2 separate regions of the Homo sapiens genome follow, and region 2 is linked to region 1. The links come from fine-mapping of genetic effects on gene expression. A gene starts in region 1. The other region holds a variant in brackets. All regions are shown on one strand. Distances are from middle to middle. Region 1 holds the start of VASH1 (vasohibin 1). Region 2 overlaps LOC105370577 (a long non-coding RNA gene).

Region 1 (8,330 bases):
TCCTCATATAAGTAGTTATGGGAGATCAAGGATTTGAACATGGTAGCTTTGACTCCAGAGTGCTCTCCTTTTATGACACCAGCCTGCAGGGGTCCCAGACTCAACCACATGCAGGGGCCGGGCAAGTAACATACACGGGGCAGGCAGGCCTGGTAGGTGAGTGGTGGAGACAGTGGCAAGATGGGGGAGTAGGACTCACTCCCCAGCCCCAGCTGACAGCTGCCACGTGGGACTGCAGATTCCCATGTGTTCCCAAGTCTTCTTATTTTCTGAAAAGATGCCAAAACTCTGGATCTTTATGTGAGAAATCTCCCAATTTTCCCAACAAAACACTTCTTGAGCCCCACACTGTGTGGCCGCTGTAGGGAATGACCCTGTGCCAGCTCCAGTGGCATGGCCCCTAGGGATGGTAAGGGCGGGGTCAGCCCACCCTGCCACTGGCACCCTGGCACCCAGGCACCCAACCCACGCTGCTTCTCTCCAAGGCCTCCTGGACTCCACTGCACTCCCAGACTCTAAGGGTACCTTTCTACTCAGAGCCCAGGTAGAGGAGGGACCTCATGCAGACTCATGCGATTTATCTGAGATCTGTGGTTTGAAGAGGGGGAGGTTCAAATTTTTCCAAACCTCTCACAAAATTCCTTCTACCCTAGCGATGGAAGTCTAGGGGTCTGTCACAACACAGCCCCCACCCCTAGACTTCCTTCATCCGTGTCTTTCCTGTACATGAGGACTGAAGATGACAGAATGACATTACAGACCAGTTACTAGTGAGCTCACTATTTCTTTTTTAGTTCCCAGGAGTGGTGGCAGTTCTGCAGGGAACCATTCACACTCTTTTATGGCCTGATTTAGACATAAGCAAGATGGCTGGAGAGCTGCCCGACTTGTTCACGTGGGAGCAGGGTGTGACTCTGGCCTCATCGGGACAAATGATCTGAGCAAAACCCAGTCTTGCCGCTTGATAAAGCACATAAGTAAAGGTGATGGATGTCTGGCCGGGCGTGGTGGTTCACGCCTGTAATCCCAGCACTTTGGGAGGCTGAGGTGGGTGGATTACCTGAGGTCTGGAGTTTGAGACCAGCCTGGCCAAAATGTTGAAAATGAAACCCCATCTCTACCAAAAATACAAAAATTAGCCAGGTGTGGTGGTAGGTGCCTACAATCCCAGATACTCAGGAGGCTGAGGCAGGAGAATCACTTGAACCAGGGAGGTGGAGGCTGCAGTGAGCCAAGATCATGCCACTGCACTCCAGCCTGGTGGAAAGAGTGAGACTCCATCTCAAAAAAAAAAAAAAAAGGTAACTGATATCCAATAACCAGGTACTGGTTTGGGGCTTTACAGTTTGTTAAATACTTTAACACACAGTCTCTCATTTCTTCCCCACAATCAACCTCATCTTATTGATAAGAAAACTGCATCTCAAATAGGTGGAAGAGGCCATATAGATAAGCAGGTGACCCCTACCAATGTCAATATCCTTTGACGCAATACTTTCGCTTTCAGAATTTTTCCCAAGGAAATAATCAGAGATGAACCCCAAAATTTATATTTTAGAATGTTCACCATAGTATTCATTTTAGGAATAAAACTGGAAACAACATCCAACTCTAGGGGATTAGCTAAATAAATATTAAGTCAGTGCAGAGCACATTTATGCGGCCATTCCAAATCAATCTACATTTTGTTTCCCCTGGAAACATTAGGCAGTATTTAAACCTTCAACCTTTGATTCTCTTTTTCCCAGAAGACACTTTCTGATGGCTGTACCAATAACTTGGTAAAAACAAAACGGGCCACTTGTCCTCATGTCTAATTCACACTAACTTCCATTCTTCCTAGCCCCCTTCCTTCCAACCTGGGCAGGCAGGGCTAAGCACTGGGCTCTGAACTCAGTCCAAAGGGCTCTTTTTTGGAGATTTCAGGCCTCTGCATTTGGCAAAGTGCCTCCTAGTCTTGATCATGTTTTTTTTTTTTTTAATATCTGGCATGTATTTCCATATAGCAGCGTACAGCACAGAAACTCTCAAATACCCTTTCATTCAGCAAACACACACACTAGTGCCTGTTCTGTGCCAGGCACACAGGAGGCCTTGGGAAGACAAAGATGAATGAGATACAGCCTCTGTTTTCGTTGGTGACACAACTGAAGTATAGCTGTCATGGAGGAGGAGTTACAGCCAACACAGAAAAATTATTTCATTTTATGCTTCTCCATAAGACCTCTTCTAATGTGCTTGAATCTACTGTCCAACAGAGAAGAGGACCTGGACACTTCCCTCCACCACCACCCCCCGCCCTTCTCCTGAAGACCTGAAATTGAATCTCAGTTCTGCCACTTACTGGCTGTGGGATCTTGAGTTCCTACTTGAGTTTTCAGCTTTCTCATCTGTAAAATGGGAATCCAAACTGTACTTACGTCACAAGGCTGTTGGGAGAATTCAATGACATAATGCACGAAAATATTTTCTCAACATATGAAGCCCTGCATCTCCTTAGTCATTCATTACATTTGTCTGCTCACAGTTCTCTGGCTTGGCAAGTGTCATCAAGCAAATGAGACGTCAAGCCATCCTACTGTGTTTGTTAGTTCCATCTGCTGCTGTCCCCTCCTGTAAAACGTGGACATTTTAAAAGACAGCGGGGAGGGCCTCCTGGAGACAATGTATGTGAGCCTCCCTCCTAGAATGGCAGTGAGAGAAAGTTCTCCTAGACAGGTATGATATCACTGCATTTTAAAGATCTTACCGAGCCAGTGGTCCCCTGCCCCGTGGGAGGAGAGTGTGGCTTCACTCTTGGCCCCAAGGTCACTAAAACCTAGACTGTGCTATCACCCCCCTGACCCGTGTGTCTCACCTTGGGCAGGTCTGTGGCCCCACGGATCCGTTGCGCCACCTTCTCTCCATCGGGGTGGATCTTGGCCACGTGTTTCCACATCCTTTCCCAGGTGGCCTCATCCACAGGTAGCCCACCCCGGTTGACAAAGAAGGGGACGCCTCCGTCTCGCAGGTCCTCTTCCCCTTCCTCTTCTGGCTCCTCATCTCTCTGGGCTGAGGTTCCTTCGCTGGTCTCCAAACGCCTGACCCCAGAGGGGGCGGTGGCCGCAGCGGACGTTGGAGTGGCACCGCTGCTGCCACCCCCAGCCACCTTCTTCCCCCCTGGCATCCCTAAATCTTCGAGGGGGGTGGTGGAGGCGGGAAAACAACTGGCTCACAAGAGGCCTCCCACACACCGGCTGCAGAGATAACACATGGCCAGAGTGCAAGGCGCCTTTAAGAAATCAGGGCGTGGCTCCTGTACAATAAAATACGACTTGATAAAAAAAATCAGTGCAATAAGGTGAATTAGGGTCCGAGGGGGTGGGTTGTCTGGGGTCAGCCTTGGAGGCCTTGTTCTGTTTGAAAAACGGAATAAAGAGAACACACCCCAACTTGGCAGCCGTCACAAAGCACCCCCATCTAACTGCGAGAACAATGACGGGCAGCAGTGAGGGCTGGCAGAGCGGAGAAAAGTCGGAGGGAAACTGAGGCCAGACAGCTCGGACCAGCGGCTGCAGAAAGGACAGAGTCAAGGCACGGGTGCCCACTGGGCGCCCTGGGTCTCAGTTTCGGAGGGAACAAAATCCCCTACACAACTCTCGCACGCTCACATCTGCGCGCGCCCCAAGGAAGACCGAGGCGACTCCCGGCCGCGCGAGCTCGGAACCAAGACCCCCGGGCGGGAGAGCGGCGCTGGGGGGCGATTTCTCCGACGCGACGAGACAAGTCCGGGAGCCAAGACTCGCAGCTGGCCGGGAGCGGGGAGGGGGCGCGCGCCGACGCGCACATTCCCCGCCTGCGGCCAACTCCCTGCACAAAGTGGGCTTTGTCTGGGTCCCCTGTCCCCTCGTCCCCAGAAACAGCGGCGGAGTCCCCAGAAAGGGAGCGGGCGCGGCGGGGAGGCGAAGGCTGCGAGCCCCGAGGCCCAGCGGGTCCCCACTCGGGCGCGTCTCAGCGGGAGGACGGCTGGCACCTGGCGCCGCGCTGCACCAGCCGAGCCATCGCAGGGCACGGGGCCCGCGGCTCAGCGGGACCGGCTCGGGCGGCGCGCAGGGGCCAGGCTGAGGTCACTGAGCGGCGGGCTGCGGCCGCGGGGTCGCTGCCTGGGACTGGCTGCAGCATGGGCGGTGGCGCGGCCCGGGCGGGCGGAGGATGCTCCGTGGCTGTTCGCTCGGGCTGCAGCTGCCCTGGCTGAGGGTGGAGGAAGGACCGCGGGGCGGGGACCGCAAGCCCGGAGGCTCGCGCAGCCTCGGCCGGCGGATGTAGCTGGAGGCGAGTGACGAAGCCGGGCGAGCGCGCGCTGCGCTGGTGCCTGGGGAGCAGCCCGCCAACGCGGAGCCCGCCAACGAGAAGCCCACCAGCCGATCGCTGCTCGGCGAAGCTGGGGCCGCCGCTGCTGCAGCCCCGCCGCCCCTGGGCCCCGCTGCCGCCGACCACGTCCCCTGCCAGCCAGCCGCCCACCAGGCTCGACTACGGCCCGCGCCGCGCATGCGCTCCGTCCCCCCCTTAAAGGGCCAGCGCCTTCGCGCCCAGTCCTCCGCCCCCCGCGGCGGTGCCTCTGTCCCAAGTTACCCCAAGGACGCCGGTGGGCATTCGCTCCCTCCTCACCCAGCTGTCAGGGCGCCGCGAAGCCGGTGCGAAGCTGCGGAGGACGTTTTCAACGTGCCAGAGGGAGCGCAAACTCCATGGAGATTCCTAGCGCAGAAGGAATTCCTGCGGTCGGGAATTTCTTGAAAAAGATTCTTCGCAGGGGCCCTGAGCCGGTAGGACCGAGAGCACTGGCCTGGAAGACTGGGATTCTAGACCGGATTCAGTGCCTGTGTTGCTTTGGGACGTTCAGCAGTTCCCTTCCCTCTGTAGGCCTCAGTTTCCCCATATCCCAGCCGAGGTGGTCACAGTGAGTGAGCGCAGAGTCCCTCCCAGCGCGCACAGTTCTTAGAGGAGGACATCTAGGGATTGAGACGGGGGGTCACTATCTCTGGAAACGAAAAGGGTTAAAAGTCACCCTGTTTTATTCGATTGCCTGCACTGGTGGGAATGGGGTGCGCAGAGCTCACCCCTAGACCATCTGCCTAGACCGGGCTTTGGACGCTCTGGACCCCGCGGACCAGGGTGGGACCGCGACGTGGGCGTGGGAGGCAATGCTTGGGGAGGGTCCGCTGGCCTAGAGGAAGGTGAAAGTACAACCAGCTGTGGTGCGTGGTTGGACACTGGACGCACCCTCCGCCTCCCTCATGCCATAGAGTTGTAAATGGTGGGAAAGGCACTATCTCTAGGCTGAAGCCAAGAACTTTAGGAAGAGACGGCCGAGTGTGTGCTTTAAGATGCTCCCCCTCTCCCCTGCCTGTAGTTAGCATGAATCACAGTCTTGTGGGAGAATGCAGATTCCTTGGCCTTAGCCGGCAGATTCAGATTCCTTAGTTGTGGGGTCGTTGCATTTCTTGACAAGCTGAGGTTACTACACAAGGGCTGGGTTAAAGGCCTTAGAGAGACCCCAGGGCCTCAGTGGTTTCACATCTGTTCTCTAAAGCTGTCCCTAGTATCTGAACTTTCTGGGTACCCTGTGCTCCCGTAGCAACCTCTTACTACCTCCAGGGTCAGAAACCAAGGGTTATCAGTGATGGGAAGGATTGCAAGACTCCAAGAAAGTTAGTTCAGCCTGGATCTTCTTAAACTCACTAAGGCAAGAAGACTCCAAGCGTAGAAAAATCACTAGGGATCAACAACTATCACCCTGTATTGTATAAACCAAGTCTCAGAGGGTAATTTCCCCAAACTCACACAGCTAGTAAGTGGCAGAGCTAGAATGTGAACAGAAGTCTTACTTCTTCAGACACTTGTTTTTCACTCTATACATTGCTTCTTGTGTTAGCCAAGTGGTGCTGGTTTTAAAATTGGCTTGCAAGCTCTTGACCATTCTTTTCAAAAGATGGGATCTAATTCCTTTCCCCCTGAATGTGGGATGTACTTGGTGACTGGTGTCTAATGAATAAAGTGTGATGAAAGTGAAGCTGTATGACTCTTAAGACCAGGCCATAAAAAGGAGACAGCTTCTTCTTGGTTCCTCAGAAGAAACCAGCTACCATGTTGTGAAGAAGCCCAAGCCACATGGTGAGGCCACATGAGGGTGTTCTCGCTGACAGCTGCTGCTGGGCTCTCAGCCAACAGCCAGAGTCAATCACCAGATCATGGCAAACCGAGACTTCAGGTCTTGCCAGCCCTCGGCCTTTAAGTCTTAGAGTTGAGGTCCCAGACATGGAGCAGAGAACAACCAGCCCTGCTGTGCCCTGTCTGACTTTCTGTCCCACAGAAATTGAGAGAGGATAAGTGACTATTCTCGTTTTAAGCTGCTAAGTTTTGGACTAACTTGTTACGCAGCATGAGATAATACCATGTGTTTTCTGAAATGACAAATAAAATAGATGTAGGGTATTCATTCAAAGAGTAAGTACTCATAGAACATCTTCTATGTGTTTGACTCTGTACTGGGCACTGGAGAAGCAGTAGTGAACAAGAGGGACATGGCCTTTGCTCTAGTTGGACTTATGGCCTACTAGTGGAGGAGATAGTTAAGCATGATTTCCATAAGGTGCTCTGCCAGAGGGTTATTCAGGAAGCTGTGGGAGTGCATACCCAGAGCAACTTCCCAATCAGGTGAGGAGCTGGGAAAAGAAGAAATGAGTTGGGTACAAGGTCAGCATGGACTAGGCTAGAGAATTTTCTGGCATGTGTGCATAGAAGTGGAAGAGGGTATGTGTCAGGCAAGGGGGCTTGCAAATAGATTAGAAAATGGTGAAACTGGAAAGAGATGTGTATAACCCAGTCTTATCTAAGCCAAAAGCCCAGAGAGAACAAGTGACTTAACCTGGTATGGCACAACTTTTGAATTGGTCTCAGATCCTGGGTCCTTCATCAAGCCCTCCCATGACTCCCCACACCTATGCCTTGGGAACAACTCCTCCAACAGACACTTGGGTAACTCCTTATTTGGCTCAAAGCTTTCGTGACCGTTATTTTTCTTTTTTTTCTTTTTTTTTTTTTTCCCCTGAGACAGAGTCTCGGTCTGTCACCCAGGCTGGAGTGCAGTGGCTCGATCTCTGCTCACTGCAGCCTCTGCCTCCCAGGTTCAAGTGATTCTCTGCCTCAGTTTCCTGAGTAGCTGGAATTATAGGTGCCTGCCACCATGTCTGTCTAATTTTTGTATTTTTAGTAGAGATGGGGTTTCACCATGTTGGCCAGGCTGGTCTCCAACTCCTGACCTCAAGTGATCTGTCTGCTTCGGCCTCCCAAATTGCTGGGCTTACAGGCGTGAGCCACCGCGCCCGGCCCTCATGACAATTATTCCTTTTGCTGTCTTCACAAAAACCGTGGAAGAGTTAGGATGAGTATGATTTCCATTTTACAGATGAAGAAAGGATGCATAAGAGAAGCTAGGCAAATTACATACCTAGTACAGGAGCAGGCACATCTGAGCTGCTGGGTACAAGTCACTTTCATGATGACAAGGATGACGATAATGACGCCTAACTCATATCATGTGTCACATTTGTTATCGTCACACTCTGGACTAATGGTCTGCAAATGAACGCATGTTGTCTTAGGGCATCAACACTCATATTAATCTGCTCTGACACATTTTCTATTCTTGTGACACAGAAGCTAGAGTGAAATTTCCAGAGAGAAGAGTCTGTTGACTTAGCTTGGATCCTTGGCTAGAGGAGGATGGGGCAATTTCATTAGCCAAGACTACAGGTGGTTGGGGGAGAAGGACTGCCCTAAAGGTAAATGGGGTGCTGTTAGTAAAAGAGGGGCATGGAGGCACACAGGTATAGATGTGTTTATAAAAGGTAGATGTTCTGACTCAACTTTTTGCTGTTTTCATGTTCATAATTTATGAGGTAAAAGAAGAAAAGAAAAGGAGTTTAATCCCAAGAAAGAATCACAGAGCAGAACTGTCCAATAGAAATTTCTGCAATGGGCCAGGCGCAGTGGCTCATGCCTGTAATCCCAGCACTTTGGGAGGCTGAGGGGGGTGAATCACGAGGTCAGGAGTTCAAGACCAGCCTGGCCAATATGGCAAAATCCTGTCTGTACTAAAAACTACAAAAAAATAGCTGGGCGCAGTGGCAAGCACCTGTAATCCCAGCTACTGGGGAGGCTGAGGCAGGAGAATTGCTTGAACTCAAGTGGCAGGGGTTGCAGTGAGCCGAGATTGCATCACTGCACCACAGCCTAGGTGATAGGGTGAGACTCCATCTCAAAAAAAAAAAGAAAAGAAATTTCTGCAATGG
Region 2 (8,330 bases), 42 kb after region 1:
TAACTCTAAGAAATACAAAAGGTTTGGGTGTGAATTAGGTTTCTCTATTATATACAGGGTGTTAAATCAGACTTTGCAAACAATCCTAGGCAAAACTTACAAGGTCTGAAAGCATTTCCCAGAAGCTATTCACAATGCCTGACTTAAATACTCTGTATATAAAATTATAATGTAAAACTGTTGTTCCAATTTTTTTTCATAAAAGCCAAATACTTAAAACTCGATGTTTTATTTCAATATCTATCATATCATTGGGCAGGTTAGGATATGTAACAAATATTCTAAGCTCCTAAGAATGGATGGAACTATGTCACCTGTCTGTGTCTTAGCTGCCCAGGTAGAAACTTGGTTCTTTAAAGCTGTAGGGGAAGAAAATCTTTACCTCAACCATCTTAGGGTTACTGGTTGGGACTGATAATTAAGATGACATAGGCAGATGAACAGGAGAAAAGCACACAGGTTTTGACATGTACATGGGATCCCCCAAAGGAAAATGAAGATCTAAAGAACTGGCAAAACCTAAGTGCTTATATACTAGGTTGAACAAAGAGAGGCAATTGTGGAAGAGTAACTAAAATATACATGAGGACTAAAAGAACGTAAGAATTATTTTAACAAGGTCTGTATGTACAGATTTCTCTTGGTCTCAACTTCCTATCTCTGATGATAAGAATGTTTCTTTCCTCCTGGTATAGGGAGGGGACCTTTCACATGGGAGATTTATCTCCTGTTTTTAGGAAGAAAAGGGGAGGTCAGAGCACCCCTTTTGCAAGTGCCTTTAGTTCAAAATAATCAAGGCAAGTGGCATATTTTGGGGATGGCATATTCTGCCACCCTTCAAAGCCATGGACTGTGTGTATGACTGTGGATCTATTTTTCATGTTCTCCATCCCCTTCCTATATACCATGTTGTTTTGCAAATAGTTGATGCACAGTGAATTTTGGTAGATTTTTAAAAGCTCTTCACTGTACTCTATTAGCACAGATAGTCTTACTATTCAGTTGCATTTCTAAATGCTGTTAGTGCAACTATTACAAATGCAATATGTGTTCATTGCAACAAGTGGAAAAAGTACAGAAAAGTGTAAGGAAAATAAAAATCCATCATGATTCCACTGTATACCAATAATCACTGCTGACAGTTTCACATATACCAGACTCAGATGTTTTTGTGCATGAGTGGATTTATATAGTACACAGTTGATAACCTGTTTTTTTTTCTGAGTATTGTCTATAGAATTCCCATCATTAAGTATATATCAACATCACCATCTTTACTGACTTCATAGTATTCCATTTATGTATGTGCTGTAATTTCAATCCCTATTGCTAAATATTTAGGGTATGTCCACATTTTCTCTACTATATGCTGCAATTCAGCAAATATCTCTGAACATACATTCTTGGGAAAAGTTCTCAAGAGTGAAATTGCTGTTACTTTCAGTTTAAAATTTGATTATACTCCAAGTTGTTTGATTTTTAAGGATGTTGAACACCTGTACATATGTCTAGTTTCCCTACTTTGAATATAAGCTTCTAGAATAGAAGGAAGAAATCAAATCTTGGAAGTCTCTGTATCCTCTACAAGTCCTAGCACAGCTCTGGGTGTTGGAAATGCTTTTGACTGCAAATCATGGAACACCTGTGCAAGAGTAGCTTAAATCAAAAAGCCACTTAATCATCGCCCATAATTAAGAAGCCTGGGTGTAGACAGTTCAGGGGTTCGTGCAGCAGCTCAGCGAGGTCCTTCCACCCTTTTGGCTTTAGCACACTTCCTGCCCTGCCTGAGCGCCAGCACATTGTCTTCACTCGGCACGCCCAACCCAATCTAGAAACAAGGAGGTGGGCAAAGGAGCTCTCCTCTTGCCCCTCTTTTTTTTTTTTTTTTTTTTTTTTTGAGACAGAGTCTTGCCCTGTCGCCCAGGCTGAAGTGCAGTGGTGTGATCTCAGCTCACTGCAACCTCTGCCTCCCAGGTTCAAGCGATTCTCCTGCCTCAACCTCCTGAGTAGCTGGGATTACAGGCACGCGCCACCACGCCTGGGTAATTTTTTGTATTTTTAGTACAGACGGGATTTTGCCATGTTGCCCAGGCTGGTCTTGAACTCCTGAGCTCAGGCAATCCGCCCACCTTGGCCTCCCAAAGTACTAGGATTACAGGCGTGAGCCACTGTGCCTGGACTTGCCCCTCTGTTTTTATCAGAGAGGAAAAGATTTTCTAAAAACAACCCAGGAGAATTTTTTTTGTATCTTATTGACTAGGCTACTTCTAGCGCAGAAGAGGCTGGGAAGGTATCTTTGGCCTTTCATCCCCTATGATGAAAGGCAAGCTCATGGGAAGGAGTCAGGGAAAGACTGTTGCGTTGGCCACCAACAAAAATGGGGCCCAGTGATAGGACTGAACATATTCCCAGAGTTGGCATGTAGATCATCTCCTGCCCCCACTCCTCTTCATCTCTCAGGGAAGAAAACGAGTTTTTATGGTGTCACCAGCCATGGGATCTCTGGGGACCCAGTGTCACCAATTCTGCCTCCCTCCTTAGCGTTTTGGTGGGGCTTTCCTGTTCTTGTGGGTGTCCTCCAGGGGAGACTGGTCCTACAGGGGGCCCAGGGCTGTGGGAGGTGCCGTCAGGGCATCTCAGCAACTGAGAGAGACTTGGGCCACACCCGTTTTTCAAGCTCCCTATAAATTAAAAATACAGGAGAAGAACCCTAACAGCATTATAAAGTTTGCAGTTTGGCCCGGCCCGGTGCCTCATACCTGTAATCGAGCACTTTGGGAGGCCAAGGTGGGCGGATCACCTGAGGTCAAGAGTTTGAGACTAGCCTGGCCAACATGGTGAGACCTCGTCTCTACTAAAAATACAAAAATTAGCTGGGTAGGGTGGCAGGCGCCTGTAATCCCAGCTACTCGGGAGGCTGAGGCGGAAGAATCGCTTGAACCCTGGAGTCAGAGGTTGCAGTGAGCTGAGATCTTGCCACTGCACTCCAGCCTGGGCAACAGAGCAAAAACTCCATCTCAAAAATAAATAAATTAATTAAATAAAGTTGGCAATATATTTTAAATGTTTGCCACTAACAGATTCATTCCTTAATACAAAGAAAACACTGCAATAAAATTGGACACCATGGCCTTTAAATTTATGAAAAATACTGACTCAGTGTAGTGTAGCTGGTGTGACCCAGGATGGGGACAAGTTCAAAATTGAAGGTTGAGCAATCTTTTTTTTGGCAACGGAATCTCACTCTATTGCTCAGGCCGGAGTGCAGTGATGCAATCTCCACTCACTGCAGCCTCTGTCTCCTGGGTTCAAGTGATTCTCCTTCCTCAGCCTCCCGAGTAGCTAGGACTACAGGCGCTTGCCACCCCGCCTGGCTAATTTTTGTATTTTTAGTAGAGACAGGGTTTCACCATGTTAGCCAGGTGGGTCTCGAACTCCTGACCTCAAATGATCCACCCACCTCGGCCTCCCAAAGTGTTAGGATTACAGGTGTGAGCCACTGTGCCTAGCAGGCAGTCTTCTTACAATGCAGGTGTTTTGTTTGGAGGTCTTTGCAAATCTAAATTTGAGGTGCTTCATGAATCGAATATATTTTGTATTTTTAGTAGAGACAGGGTTTTGCCATGTTGCCCAGGATGGTCACAGCAAACAGTGCTCCTGGGCCCCCTGTGATAGGCCCCAGGGCAAGAGTTAAGGCCCAAAAGGACTGAGGCCTCAGGTGCCGCAATTTCAGAATTAGTTACTCATTTC[C/A]TTCCTCTCCTCCGGTCTGATTTTCCCTTCCCCACCAGCCTCCTGCGCTCCTCTCACTTCCCTTTCTCCCCTCCTAAATTCTCCATCCTCTTTTCTGACCTCTTCCTGCCCTCCCCTTCCTCCCTTCCTTCCCTCCTTTGAAAGTCTGGTCCTCTAGAGCTGTGGAAAAGACTGGAATCTGAGCCCTGGCCTGCAGCCAGCAGGGAGCCAGGAGGAGCAGCTGCAAGGTCAGACCAGGGTCACATCAGCTGCTGAGAGAGAGAGGAAGTGAGGCTGCCTGGGCTTCCTGGCCCTCAGGGACAGGCTTACTCCACATGGCCCCTCTCTGCACCCCTGTTCCTGCTGAAAGGTGCCAGGATATGCCACCCCAAAACATACCACTTTGGCATAAGGATTATTTTGAGCTAAAGGCACTTGAAAAACAGCAGATGCAAGAAGGGCATTCTAATCTAGTTTCTTCCTGAAAACAGGAGATACGGACTTTCATTTGAAAGATGCCCTCCCTGTACCAGGAGAAAAGAAACATTCTTTGAGTTACTCAGAAGACACTCTTTGTTTGCTGGGAAGATTGTGGCTTATTTTAAAAGCAAAAGCAGCATCCCTCACCCAGCATCACTTTGCTCAGGGCTGCCTTTTGTTAAGGAGCTCCTTAAAACCAAACTCAGGAGGCATTTTCTTTTTTCTCCTATGACCAGAGTGTGTTGGCAAACAGGCTGCTCCATGCCTAGTGTGGCCACTCCCAGCGCACTGGTCGGGAATGGGAGGGAGGAGACTCTGTCCCCTTGACCCAGTTTTGGGGCGAAATCCAAGAGCCTCCTTGGCTCTGTGCGTCTGCCTCTTTGAGTGTCTGCAGCACCAGCTCTCCACTGGTTGTTTTAGAGTTTCAGGGTCTTAATGATGTCGAGACCGTAATGGTGCCAGGGCATTGGTGCTGGTTATTGGTTCCACAGGTCACTCCTGGGCTGGCCCTCAGTCTTGTCCACATGGCTCTGGGGAGGTATGGGGGTCACTCTGCCGCTTCATGTCACAGAGCCCTCCATGCCCCGTCGAGTCCTGTCCACGCAGGCCTTCTCTCTTGGGTTGCTCCTCCTGAGACCCATCCCTTCTCTGTTCTCATCCTCTCCCCTCCAACACCAGCCCAGGAAAAACCTTTCCTACATTTTGGGTCCTTACCTGTAATCTCCTCTGTTCTTCCCAAATGTTTAGACTTTAGGGATTGGAAGCTGGGAGTTCTTAGACTGCTATCGACTTTCTTTCCTTCCACCACTTTCTTCAGTAAAGGAGCACAGAGCCCAGGATCTGCTTTAAAGGGGCGGAAGGAAAAACGGGGCAAGAATCTCGAAAACGTGGCCCCACTTCTGAGTGCTCGTCACCTGGCACAATACCTGGTACACAGCAAACAATTGTTAAACCAAAAAAAAAAAAAAAAAAGCTGGGCACAGTGGCTCATGCCTGTAATCCCAGCACTTTGGGAGGCCGAGACGGGTGGATCACCTGAGGTCAGGAGTTCGAGACCAGCTTGACCAACATAGAGAAACCCTGTCTCTACTAAAAATACAAAATTAGCTGGGTGTGGTGGCACATGCTTATAATCTCAGCTACTCAGGAGGCTGAGGCAAGAGAATCACTTGAACCCAGGAGGTGGAGGTTGCAGTGAGCGGAGATCATGCCATTGCACTCCAGCCTGGGCAACAAGAGTGAAACTCCATCTCAAAAAAAAAAAAAAAAAAAAAAAAAAAGAAAAGAAAAGAGAAACATGGCAGCAAGAGAATGAATAAATGCAGGCCACCTGGCTCAGAGCCGCAGGACTTGAATTCAGATCCCAGCCCCCTGGCTGACCTCCCTGTGTAAGTTCTACTGACCTAATCCATAAAGGAGGGGAGGGATGAGTTCATCGCTGGGATTCCTTCCAGCCCCCAAACTCAATATTTTGTATCCACATAGGAAAAAGAAAGAATATTTATGCAGTCGTCCCACTGAACTGGAGCAGGGAAGAAACCTGCCTGGATGATTCAGGCTCACATACACAATCATCTCCAAATATGCTTCCCTTCTGTCAAATGCCATCTCCTAAATATCACCAGAGCAACCTGCGGAGAAGGCAAGGCTGAGTTGATTGTTCACCGTGGTAAGGTAGAGTACCCCCTCCACAAAGCCTCAGTAGCTTCCCAAAGTGGGAGGGCAAAGTGATTTTTATTGAGACTTTGAGGCCTGGTTTAAGGTGGCTCTTTCAGTGCAGAGGTGGCATGCTTGATGGGGGTTGCTAAGATCATGATTGGTAGACACAGCAAAGTGAGGATTTCTGGCTGAGGCGTTCAAAGAACCTTGGGGTATAAACTGTCTTCCTATTGAACCTATAAACTGATGCTTCCTGTTGAAGACATGGTGTGTCCTTCAGGAAGTTCCTGGGATGAACAGTAGAGTTATTTACAGCTTTTATCTTCCTGGGCAAGCATTTTCTGGAATAATAGTGAAGTTACTTTGATGAGGACAGTGGAATAGTAAAGTCATGTTAATATAGACAGTGAGCTATGAGTGGTTTGATTCTCATCCCAAGCTGTCTTGGTTCGCTGTTTGAATGACTGTGATGTCCCCTCCACCAAGAAGGCTGACGCCTATGAACATGTGTACTCCCTTTCCCTCTTGGTCCAGCTGGATTTGGCCCATGAAGGCAGGGAGCAGAGTGAGGCTGGAATATTCATTTCTGTTCTCTTTCTGCTGGTATTACCCAGCAAGCAATGGGCTCACTGCCTGATGCACACACAAGCCAATACCATGGCACTGAAAACCTTTATTGGGAATTGACTGGCAAGACAGGAGGCAAGGCTGAAATCTATGTCGCCTAGCTGGTGGGCTGGGGCAGGTTTTATAGGCGAAGGGTAATGAACCATGATCTGATTGGATCTTGCAATGAGGTGATGCTGGGGAGGCATGATCTGACTGGATCCTGCCACGGGGTGACACTAGAGCTCAATCTGATTGGATCCTGGATCCTGCCATGTGCAGTCCACCTCTGAAAGCAGTCCTTGCTCCCGGCTTCCAGCACTTAGGTTCCACTTGTGGTTGCACACTTGGTTCATCTGGGCATGTTCAGGTTACTTGACTTTCAACTTGGGGATCCATGGCAACCAAAAAACAACTCACGACTTTGTTACATAAAAGTTGAACCAGGGCTGGGCACGGTGGCTCACGCCTGTAATCCCAGCTCTTTGGGAGGCCGAGGTGAGCAGATCACGAAGTCAGGAGATCGAGACCATCCTGGCTAACACGGTGAAACCCCGTCTCTATTAAAAGTAAAAAAAATTAGCCAGGTGTGGTGGCAGGTGCCTGTAGTCCCAGCTACTCAGGAGGCTGAGGCAGGAGAATGGTGTGAACCTGGGAGGCGGTGCTTGCAGTGAGCCAAGATTGCGCCACTGCACTCTAGCCTGGGCAACAGAGCGAGACTCTGTCTCAAAAAAAAAAAGAGTTGAACCAGATTGGTCTGGTGTGATTACACTGGGTTGCCCTGGGTTGGTTGCCTCCGCCTGTTTCAGCCCTCAGCTCCTATCACCAGCCTTCTCAATAGCTTCTCTCTTGAGTTGGGGTAACTGCTCCCCGACTTGCCCTTTTATGCCTAAGGGAGCCTAGCTCCTAGTATCCCATGTGGCTCTTTCTCTCATTTCTTATTCCCAATGAGCATGTGTTGCTTTCCTAAAGGCATTTCCATAACATTATACTTTTAAAGTCAACTGTGTGTGAGTATAAATGCTATTGGACATCAGGGGAGAACTCGGAAAAAAAAAATGTTCATTTTTATTGATAAACTTTTTAACTAAGGCAATTTTCAAAGAAAGCTAAAATCATGACATTCCTACAAACATAAAATGGACATGTTAAAATTGTATTTAGTGCATCATTAATGAAGGCTGGTAAGATGTGACAACCGGTTCAAATGAGAAGTCAAAAGAGGCACAAATTTATATGGAGAAAAGCAATGTTGAAGTGTATTTACGAATAGAAGGAAATATATTTACGAATAGAAGGAAACATATTTCAAATAGAAGGAAACTGGCTTTCCTTTGGAAAATAGGAAGTAAATTGAACCACCTCGGGACAGAATGTATTTGCATGCCTGCAAACAGGAATTATTTACATTGCTATCAGTTATCTACAATTTACAGATTTGAAAAATAGCTCAAAGGCAATGAATGGCCCAGAGACCCTAAAGCATCGCACTCAGATAACCTGGAAGGGTATGCTCTAAAGGATACACAGTTTCCCAATGAAGCACACATTTTTTCCTACGTGACATTTATTAAGCAGTTAATACTTGCAGGCAGTGATCCAATCCATGGGGACTGATAGTCTGCTTGGAGATTTAAGACACAAAAGAGCTGAGCCGTCTCCCTCCAGCAGTCTGATTAGTGGAGTGTTTATTATACTTCCTCTCAGTGACATAAAGATACTCCAAATTGAGTTCCATCATCAAGCTTTCCTCTTGAGAAAAACAAAAGTTTCCACTGCTTTCAAAAGTTTGAAAGCCACCAACCCATGTCCAGCAGGTTCATTTTATAGAAGAGAAAATGAAGGCTCAGAGAGGA

Evidence for each region.
Region 2: its variant is fine-mapped to the expression of VASH1 in whole blood (TOPMed, PIP above 0.99).

Annotation. Positions count from the first base shown.
Region 1 is chr14:76,757,658-76,765,987 of GRCh38, reverse strand. VASH1 (vasohibin 1) reads right to left here and starts at 4,520. Exons shown (of 7, transcript NM_014909.5): 1 at 2,858-4,520. The coding sequence starts at 3,166. RefSeq lists silencers at 3,994-4,263, 4,364-4,553.
Region 2 is chr14:76,716,139-76,724,468 of GRCh38, reverse strand. The region is part of intron 1 of LOC105370577 (a long non-coding RNA gene); the gene reads left to right. Among named protein-coding and RNA genes, the nearest start is that of VASH1, 41 kb to the left of the region's middle. RefSeq lists an enhancer at 3,810-3,969. The variant C/A (reference allele first, on the strand shown) is at 3,751.